2 separate regions of the Homo sapiens genome follow, and region 2 is linked to region 1. The links come from fine-mapping of genetic effects on gene expression. Tissue or cell type: whole blood. Region 1 holds a variant in brackets; the other region holds the start of a gene. All regions are shown on one strand. Distances are from middle to middle.

What was found. PIP is the estimated chance that this variant, and not a neighbour inherited with it, causes the effect.
Region 2: it holds the start of INTS8, and the variant in region 1 is fine-mapped to the expression of INTS8 in whole blood (TOPMed, PIP 0.97).

What each region holds. Positions count from the first base shown.
Region 1 is chr8:94,881,734-94,885,994 of GRCh38, reverse strand. It overlaps CCNE2 (cyclin E2), which reads left to right. Exons shown (of 12, transcript NM_057749.3): 8 at 437-532; 9 at 794-928; 10 at 3,103-3,214; 11 at 3,706-3,863; 12 at 4,250-4,261. It overlaps INTS8 (integrator complex subunit 8), which reads right to left. Exons shown (of 27, transcript NM_017864.4): 27 at 4,249-4,261. Among named protein-coding and RNA genes, the nearest start is that of CCNE2, 11 kb to the left of the region's middle. The variant C/T (reference allele first, on the strand shown) is at 2,521.
Region 2 is chr8:94,820,691-94,824,796 of GRCh38, reverse strand. INTS8 (integrator complex subunit 8) reads right to left here and starts at 1,510. Exons shown (of 27, transcript NM_017864.4): 1 at 1,236-1,510. The coding sequence starts at 1,365. RefSeq lists an enhancer at 864-923 and a silencer at 1,084-1,473.

The DNA.
Region 1 (4,261 bases):
TTAATCCCAGCACTTTGGGAGGCCAAGGCAGGCAAATCATTTGCAGTCAGGAGTTTGAGACCAATCTGGCCTACATGGTGAAACCCTCTCTCTCCTGAAAATGCAAAAAATAGCCGGGCACAGTGGCACACACCTGTAACCCCAGCTACTGGGGAGGCTGAGACCCAAGAATCACTTGAGCCTGGAAGGTGGAAGTTGCAGTGAGCCAAGATTGCACCACTGCACTCCAGCCTGAGACTCTGCCTCAAAAAAAAAAAAAAAAAAAAAGAAAGAAAATGTACTTTTTGTCTTTGCTTATTTCTCCAAGAAAATGAAAATGCACTTTCTACTTAAATGATATTTTGGTTTATTGGGATGTAACCCCATTGTAGACTGAGGAACATTTGTAATTAATTTCTATCTCAATTGTACTCAATAAAAATATTACAATTTAAAGGAAATCTATGCTCCTAAACTCCAAGAGTTTGCTTACGTCACTGATGGTGCTTGCAGTGAAGAGGATATCTTAAGGATGGAACTCATTATATTAAAGGTAATAATAATTATGTTTTCCTAGTTGCAAAAAAGAAACCATGTTACTAAGTAACATAAGTAGTTATAATTGAATCTCAAATACTACAATGTAAAAAGTCAAAACTGAGGTATTAGGATCCAGTTCTAAGAGGTTAATGCATCAAAATATTGACAATGGTTATGGTTGGATGGGGAATGTACTTAACCTCTAAGCTCTGCTGTATAATGTGGTGTATGTGTCTACATTCATTAACAGGCATTTTTAAATTTTGTTTAATAGGCTTTAAAATGGGAACTTTGTCCTGTAACAATCATCTCCTGGCTAAATCTCTTTCTCCAAGTTGATGCTCTTAAAGATGCTCCTAAAGTTCTTCTACCTCAGTATTCTCAGGAAACATTCATTCAAATAGCTCAGGTACTGACATTTTTATTGATTCAATGGTAATGTTATTAATTACAGGTTTTAGTGTATATATAGTCTTAAATAGGCTATACCACAAAATGACATATTGACTTCACTCCTTAATTCTAGAACAAAACTTTTGACGCATAAAGTTCTGTCCCCAGTGTTTATGTTGCTTAATATTTCTAGAAAAACAAAGTCCTTACACTTTTCTGAGTACTTTCATTCTTTAGGAGTCCAAACTAAAGTATCTCTTTTTGATATAAAATGGGGAAAAGCATTTTTTTCGCCAGTTGTGTTTAAGCTTTATAATGGCATAGAATTATTCTGTATGATGTCTTTACATTTGGATACACAGAGTGCCTATCAAGTTAAATATCAGAATTAAAATTACTTTGTTAAAAAAATTTTTTAGAACATAAATTCAAAGTAAACTTTTCCAGGCTAGCATATTTAACAAAGTAAGTAAGTAGAGGAGGAGGAGGATCTGGCCGGGCACTGTGGCTCAGGTCTCTAATCTCAGCACTTTGGGCGGCTGAGGCAGGCAGGCAGATCACTTGAGGTCAGGAGTTTGGGCGGCTGAGGCAGCCTAGCCAACATGTTACTTGGGAGGCTGAGGCAGGAGAATCGCTGGAACCTGGGAGGTGGAGGTTGCAGTGAGCCGAGATCGCACTACTGCACTCCAGCCTGAGCAACAGAGCAAGACTCCATCTCAAAAAATTAAAAAAAAAAAAAAAGAGGAGATCCCATTCTTTCTTGCTTACTTCTCGTAAGTAATCTTAAGGCTGCTGTATCTGCCATATAACAAAAGTGAAGAAAATCTACCCTCTTATTCTATGTGGGATGTGAAAATCTAACATATGGAAGACATTTGGGGATAATTATTAAGTCACCTAGGTTAAAATTTGTGGGCAGTGGTGCTTAAATCTAGCACATTATGAATACTCAAATTGGATAACCACTAAGTATACTGAAATTGGTTTATTTTATAAAACTTTTTATTAAAAGCTTAATTTTTTCATCCAGAATTCCTAGCATCCCAAATTGTCCTAGGCAGCTATACCCTTCTGATAGTGATGGTAAATCTTTGATAAGCCGATAAACAATGTGGACTTTCTAGAGGTATATAACAGTAATATTTCACTTCCAATTCCCAGCTCTTCTCCCATTTCTCCTACCTTCTGGACCAATGAGGACAAACAGAATTGAAGTTTAATTCCACTGCACAAGTATCTTCTCAAATCTGTGAAATCTACCCCTTTTACACTATACCATTCCACTGCTACTAGTTCAGCTCTTATTGCCTAGATTATACAGCCTTTTAACTAATCTCACTGCTTAATAAACATGTTTTCTTCTAGTCTGTCTGCTTCACTGCATTCTAAGGTATCTTTCTTAAAATGGAACTTTGATTTAAAAATCTTCCAGTAGCTTCAAGAATCAGCCTATAAAATTCTGACTTCTTAAAGACCCTTTGTGATCCAATCTAGACCATGCCTCTTTCTAGCCACCACCCCTCATCTTTCTTGATAAGAAATGAAGGTACTCCTTATTTATTTTTCACCTTAGGAGTTCTGAACTGTGAACTGAGTTCCAAGTAATGT[C/T]CCTATACCTAGAACATTCTCTGCCTCCTACTCTTCCTGGCTCCCTTATCTTTTAAGACCCATTTATGGCAATTTGAGGCCATCACTATCTTTTCCAATCTGGATTAGGTGCCCTTCCTGCTAGTACATGTCACACTGTATTGCAACAGTCCTTCCTTGTCTACTTCCTTCAGGTTGGTGGCTTGTTTTTTTTTTTTTTGAGACGGAGTCTCGCTCTTTCGCCCAGGCTGGAGTGCAGTGGCGCGATCTCTGCTCACTGCAAGCTCTGCATCCCGGGTTCACGCCATTCTCCTGCCTCAGCCTCCCGAGTAGCTGGGACTACAGGCGCGTGCCACCAAGCCCAGCTAATTTTTTGTATTTTTTAGTAGAGGCGGGGTTTCACCGTGTTAGCCAGGATGGTCTCGATCTCGTGACCTTGTGATCCACCCGCCTCGGCCTCCCAAAGTGCTGGGATTACAGGCGTGAGCCACCGCGCCTGGCCGGGTGGTGGCTTATTTATCTCTAGATCCCTAAGGTTTTAGCAAGAGACATTTAGTACTCATCTTTCTCCTAAATTGCTTGTACTTTTGTTTTTCCTGTTAGCTTTTAGATCTGTGTATTCTAGCCATTGATTCATTAGAGTTCCAGTACAGAATACTGACTGCTGCTGCCTTGTGCCATTTTACCTCCATTGAAGTGGTTAAGAAAGCCTCAGGTAAGACTCTCTATTTGTTGTCTTCTTACCTTTTCACAACTTCTAATGGGACTACAGTCTCTGAACTTTAACATTCTGCTAAACATGCATTTAAAACTTTGGCAAAAAAAAAATTAGCTGTTCAGTAATTATCTTTCTGTTAGAAGTACTTTCCAATCCTGAATGTGTATCAACAAAAAGACCAAATGGAATTTAAATACAGTTGAAATGAATCAACATTATAGTTCTGCTTTAAGAGTTCTTTGGGATTTGACCATTTCAATTTCATATGTAGAAGGTACTGGTTAAGAAGTTCTGAAGTCCTTTTTCCCTTCAACATAGTCATGTAAATAGTTTGAGAGTGATAATCTGTTTTGACATGCTAAACTTCTTGGTTATGATTTGGTTTCTTTTAAAATATCTCAAAAACAGCAACAAGTACATCAGACATATGTAAGATAGTTTCTGATGTACAACCTTCATGCTTTTCTAACTTTTTTCTATCTATCTAGGTTTGGAGTGGGACAGTATTTCAGAATGTGTAGATTGGATGGTACCTTTTGTCAATGTAGTAAAAAGTACTAGTCCAGTGAAGCTGAAGACTTTTAAGAAGATTCCTATGGAAGACAGACATAATATCCAGACACATACAAACTATTTGGCTATGCTGGTATGTTTTTTTGTGAGTTTTTTGGCTTTGCTATCTGAATCTAGTAAGTCACCAAAACTGATGGTAGGAATAGAGTACTCCTTCAGGCAGTTTCAGGGGAAAGAAAGTTCTAAGGGGCACACTGATTTCAAAATGTAGAAAAGTTAATAAAATTACTTTGAAATCAAAGCAAGATTTGTGAAGTGTCTCAAGATCAATGCCAACAGTCTAGATAAAGAGTTTAAAAAATATATAACGTTACAGAAACTTTCAGAATATGACCCTTCACACTTGCAAAGACATAAAAAGACTATTAAAATTAGGCCTAAATAATCTCAAATAAGTACCCAGAAGTCTGGTTTGACTTTGATTTATGAAATCAGTGCATGATTTCTTCCCATGTATAGGAGGAAGTAAAT
Region 2 (4,106 bases), 61 kb after region 1:
GGGGGGGGGGGGAGTTTGGGTTTTTTTTTTGCCACAAAAGGAATCCAAACAGCTGCGCTGTTAAAATGACTAAGGAATACGTATGTAAGAAGTGTGCCTGGGGGTTAAAGGAGATGCGGAAGAGTGGTAAGGAGGAAGGGTAACAGATTAGAGTGGAAGAAAGCAAAAAAAAGCACCTTACGGGGAAGAACATAACAGTCATAGATTTCTGGTTCTGCAAATAACCACTGCCAATTAGAAGAATGAGATATAAATATTAGAACTATTATTTTGACACTTAATTAGGGGGACCTCCATCAAGTGACCTCTCCGTACCTGCTTCTTCCAATGCAAAATAGAGGATCATTTTGAAGATTAAATTAAAGGAGGTAACGGATGTGAGCAATTAAGCACAGTGCATGGCACCCGGAAAGCACTCAACAAATTATCTTTCAAAAGGAATGAATTAAGGGCATTATACAGGTGCCAAAACTGCCTAAGTACACTAACTTCTTACACAGTGGTCTCTATCAGTGAAGGCCAGTCTGAGACTGAACAAGCCATATCTAGATTTGAATTTAGAGAAATGCTATCCGAGGAACTTACCTTTTTGTGCCAATACCTTTTTTGAGAATGCCTGGAGTTTTCCTCCTCCCCCATCAATCACACCCATTTAACTGGGCTATTAATCATTATCATCACTATACAAAGCCATCTTGCAAATGTGCAGCAGTTCCTACTTTCAAAGATTTTCTTTTAACTTACAGCCCAACTTTGGAATAAGAGTCAATAAAATTCCCTCACTGAAGAAAAAAATGTTTAAATAAAACCTAAGATAATAACTAGCGTCACGATCAACACCCAACAGCTGGTTTCTCCCCAGCTCCCTGAATTTATTCAGCTTGGGGTTGAAGGAGGCGTCTGGTCAGCCTCCCCGACCCAAGCAACCACAAGACCCGCCTCGCAGCCTCTAAAACCCCAACAGTAAAAAGGTAAATCGTAAAAAGGACCAAAGGGTTTAGGATGACAGCACCAAGCCCTCCCCTCCGGGGGTAGGAGAGCCTTTGTTTCGAGCTTTTCTTTGACCCTCCACCCGGGCATGTTTAAGGGAAGCGAGGAGCCCGGCCGGAGCTGGGCTCCTGTGCGCGCCTCCCAGGCCGCAGCTTCGGTGACCGAGAAGGCGGGGAGCGGAGGGAAGCTGGGCGGACAGCGCCGGTGGCCGGGTCCCGCTCCCCAGGTGCAGGCGCCGCGCTCACCCGGGCAGGGCTTGCGCAGATGTTTCTCCAACAGTGACTCCTCCAGCAGAAACTCAAACCAGCAGGTCTGCGGCGGGGTGCAGGGCCGGCTGGAGGTGGCCGCCTCCCGGTCCGCCGCCTCCGCGCTCATCCTGCCCCCGCCGCCGCTACCACCAGGGCCGCTTCCCGGCTCCAACCTGACACTTGGATGCGGGCCGGTGCCTGGGGTATGCGGAACCCGGTGGGAGAGAGGCCACCCTCCGAACGTCCCGGAAACTCACACAATCCAAAATGGCGGCGCGGGCCAGCCGGAGCTGCGGTCCTGGATCCGCCTCCCCGCGCCACCGCCGCGCCTTCGGACCAATCGTTGTTCGGGTTGGAAGGAAAGGGGCGTGACTAACCTTCGAACCACGCCTCCTCCCGGTTGCCATAGGAGACGGCGCCGCATGAAGCCGGGTCGCGGGTGGGTTTTCCGTGTTCCCTGACAGTTCTCCAGCGAGAAAATGAGACAACCTCATCTAGGGTTGCAACGGGCCTCAATATTTTCGTAAAGGCGAAGCGAAGGGTTCTAGTTGTGACCCAAGCAAAGTTTATCTCCTGTGCTTTCAATTTCCCCGTTCCCATTTCTGAGATTTCCTCGCACCTGGGTCCTCTCCTCAGATGCTCCCGCCGTCCTGCCGAGAACACCAGCTTCCCACTCGCTTCCTGGACGGATGGCAGCATACGGTGAGCAGCCCTTGCTGCTAGCTCCCGATACTTAGAGCCTAGTTGATCCTTTCGATATCCCCGCTAGAGGCGCTGTTAACCCTATACATTTACCTCCGTTCTGTGATGTTCTTGTATTTTTCATTAACGATTAAAACTGAAAAAAGATGCATTCATAGATCGTGAATACAAGGCCAGCCTGACCAATATGATGAAACCCCGTCTCTACTAAAAATACAAAAATTAGCCGGGCTTGGTGGCGGACGCCTGTAATCCCAGCTGCTCAGGAGGCTGTGGCAGGAGAATCGCTTGAACCCGCGAGGCGGAGGTTGCAGTGAACCGAGATCGCTCCATTGCACTCCAGCCTGGGCAACAGAGCGAAACTCTGTCTCAAAAAAAAATTTTTTTTAAGTAGCCGGGTATGGTGACACACACCTGTGGTCCCAGCTACTCAGGAAGCTGAGGCGGGAGGATCACCTAAGCCTAAGAGATTGAGGTTGCAGTGAGCTGTGATTGTGCCGCTACACTCCAGCCTGGGCAACAGAGTGAGACCCTGTCTCACAACGAGAAAAAAAAAAAGAAAGAAAAAAAAGGAAATCAGTACAGATTAACTTGACATTTTGACATTTGTATTACATATGTAAAAATAAGTTTTAATTAAGGAAGAGTTCATTATTCCACTACCATCTAATACAATAACAACATTATATATTTCAAGTCCCAAGGTGTTTTATTTAGACTCAAAAATGTCTTGCCATAAAAGTGTTACAGCACTGAACTCCCCTTTTCAGAGTGGGTAATTGAATACTTGAAGGTTGACAGAGATCTTGAAGTTTATTAAACTTAGAGACCATCTCTTAGAGGGAGTCATAACTTAAGACTTCATCAACATTGGAGGAGTCTAATGAACTCAAGCTTCCAGCCAGGGACTCTTGTCCCTCTAATGCAGGGCAGGTGACCCCAAATTGGAACTTCACCCCAGAGAGTTCTTTGCTTTGTCCAGGAAAGAATTCAAGTGTGAACCAGTGGTAGAAGAGAACAGCTTTACTGAAGTGGCAGTGTTACAGCTCTGTGACTGCCCCTGCAGAGCAGGGCTAACCCACAGGCAGTGCGCTGAGAATACCAGCTCAGGGAGGTTCTGCAGGCATATTTACACCCACTTTTAATTGCATGCAGATTAAGGGGAAGTTTATGCAGAAATTTCTAGGAAAAAGGTAGTAACTTCTGGGTCATCGGGTCATTACCATAGAATGGGGTGGCAATGCCCAGGTGTTGCCATGGCAATGGTAAACCGACATGGCACACTGTTGAGCATGTCTCATGGAAAGCTGCTTCAGCCCCATCCCTGAATTTGGTCCGGTGTCCAAACCCTGACTCCAGAGTCGCATCTCACCTCCTACCTCACTTCTGAGCAGTATGTTTGGAGGGTGTCTGTCAGAAGACCCTCAAAACTACCAGTTGCTTCTGCTTTGATGCAAGACACATATCCCAGCTGTGGCCAAGTTTGCTTGCCTGGGTCTGGAGTGACACATCTTTCCCTGTCAGTGTGTGACAATCCTGGTGTGGGTTCAGTGTTCTTGAAAGGTGTCCCAGAATGTCAAAAAGCCAAGGCTTCTTCAACTTGCTATGTCTTCGGCTCTCAGAAACAACAGAGGCAAAAGAAATATTTAAAATTTTGATTTAAAAAATAATACACTTGGAAAGATACCATCAGGAAAGTGGAATGACAACCCAAAGACTAGAAGAAAATATTTGCAAATCATGTGTCTGATAAGGGACTTACATCTAGAATATGTAAAGAACTCTTACAACCCAGCAACAACACAGTGAGTAAAGGATTTGAATTGGCCAGGCACGGTGGCTCACGCCTGTAATCCCAGCACTTTGGGAGGCCGAGGTGGGTGGATCACCTGAGGTCAGGAGTTCAAGACCAGCCTGGCCAACATGGTGAAACCTCATCTCTACTAAAAATACAAAAATTAGCCTGGCATGGTGGCGGGCACCTGTAATCCCAGCTACTTGAGAGGCTGAGGCAGGAGAATTGCTTGAACCCACGAGGCAGAGGTTGCAGTAAGCTGAGATTGTGCCACTGCACTCCAGCCTAGGCAACAGAGCGAGACTCCGACAGAGCGAGACTCCATCTCAAAACAAAAAAAAAAAAAAAAAAAAAAGGATTTGAATTGATCA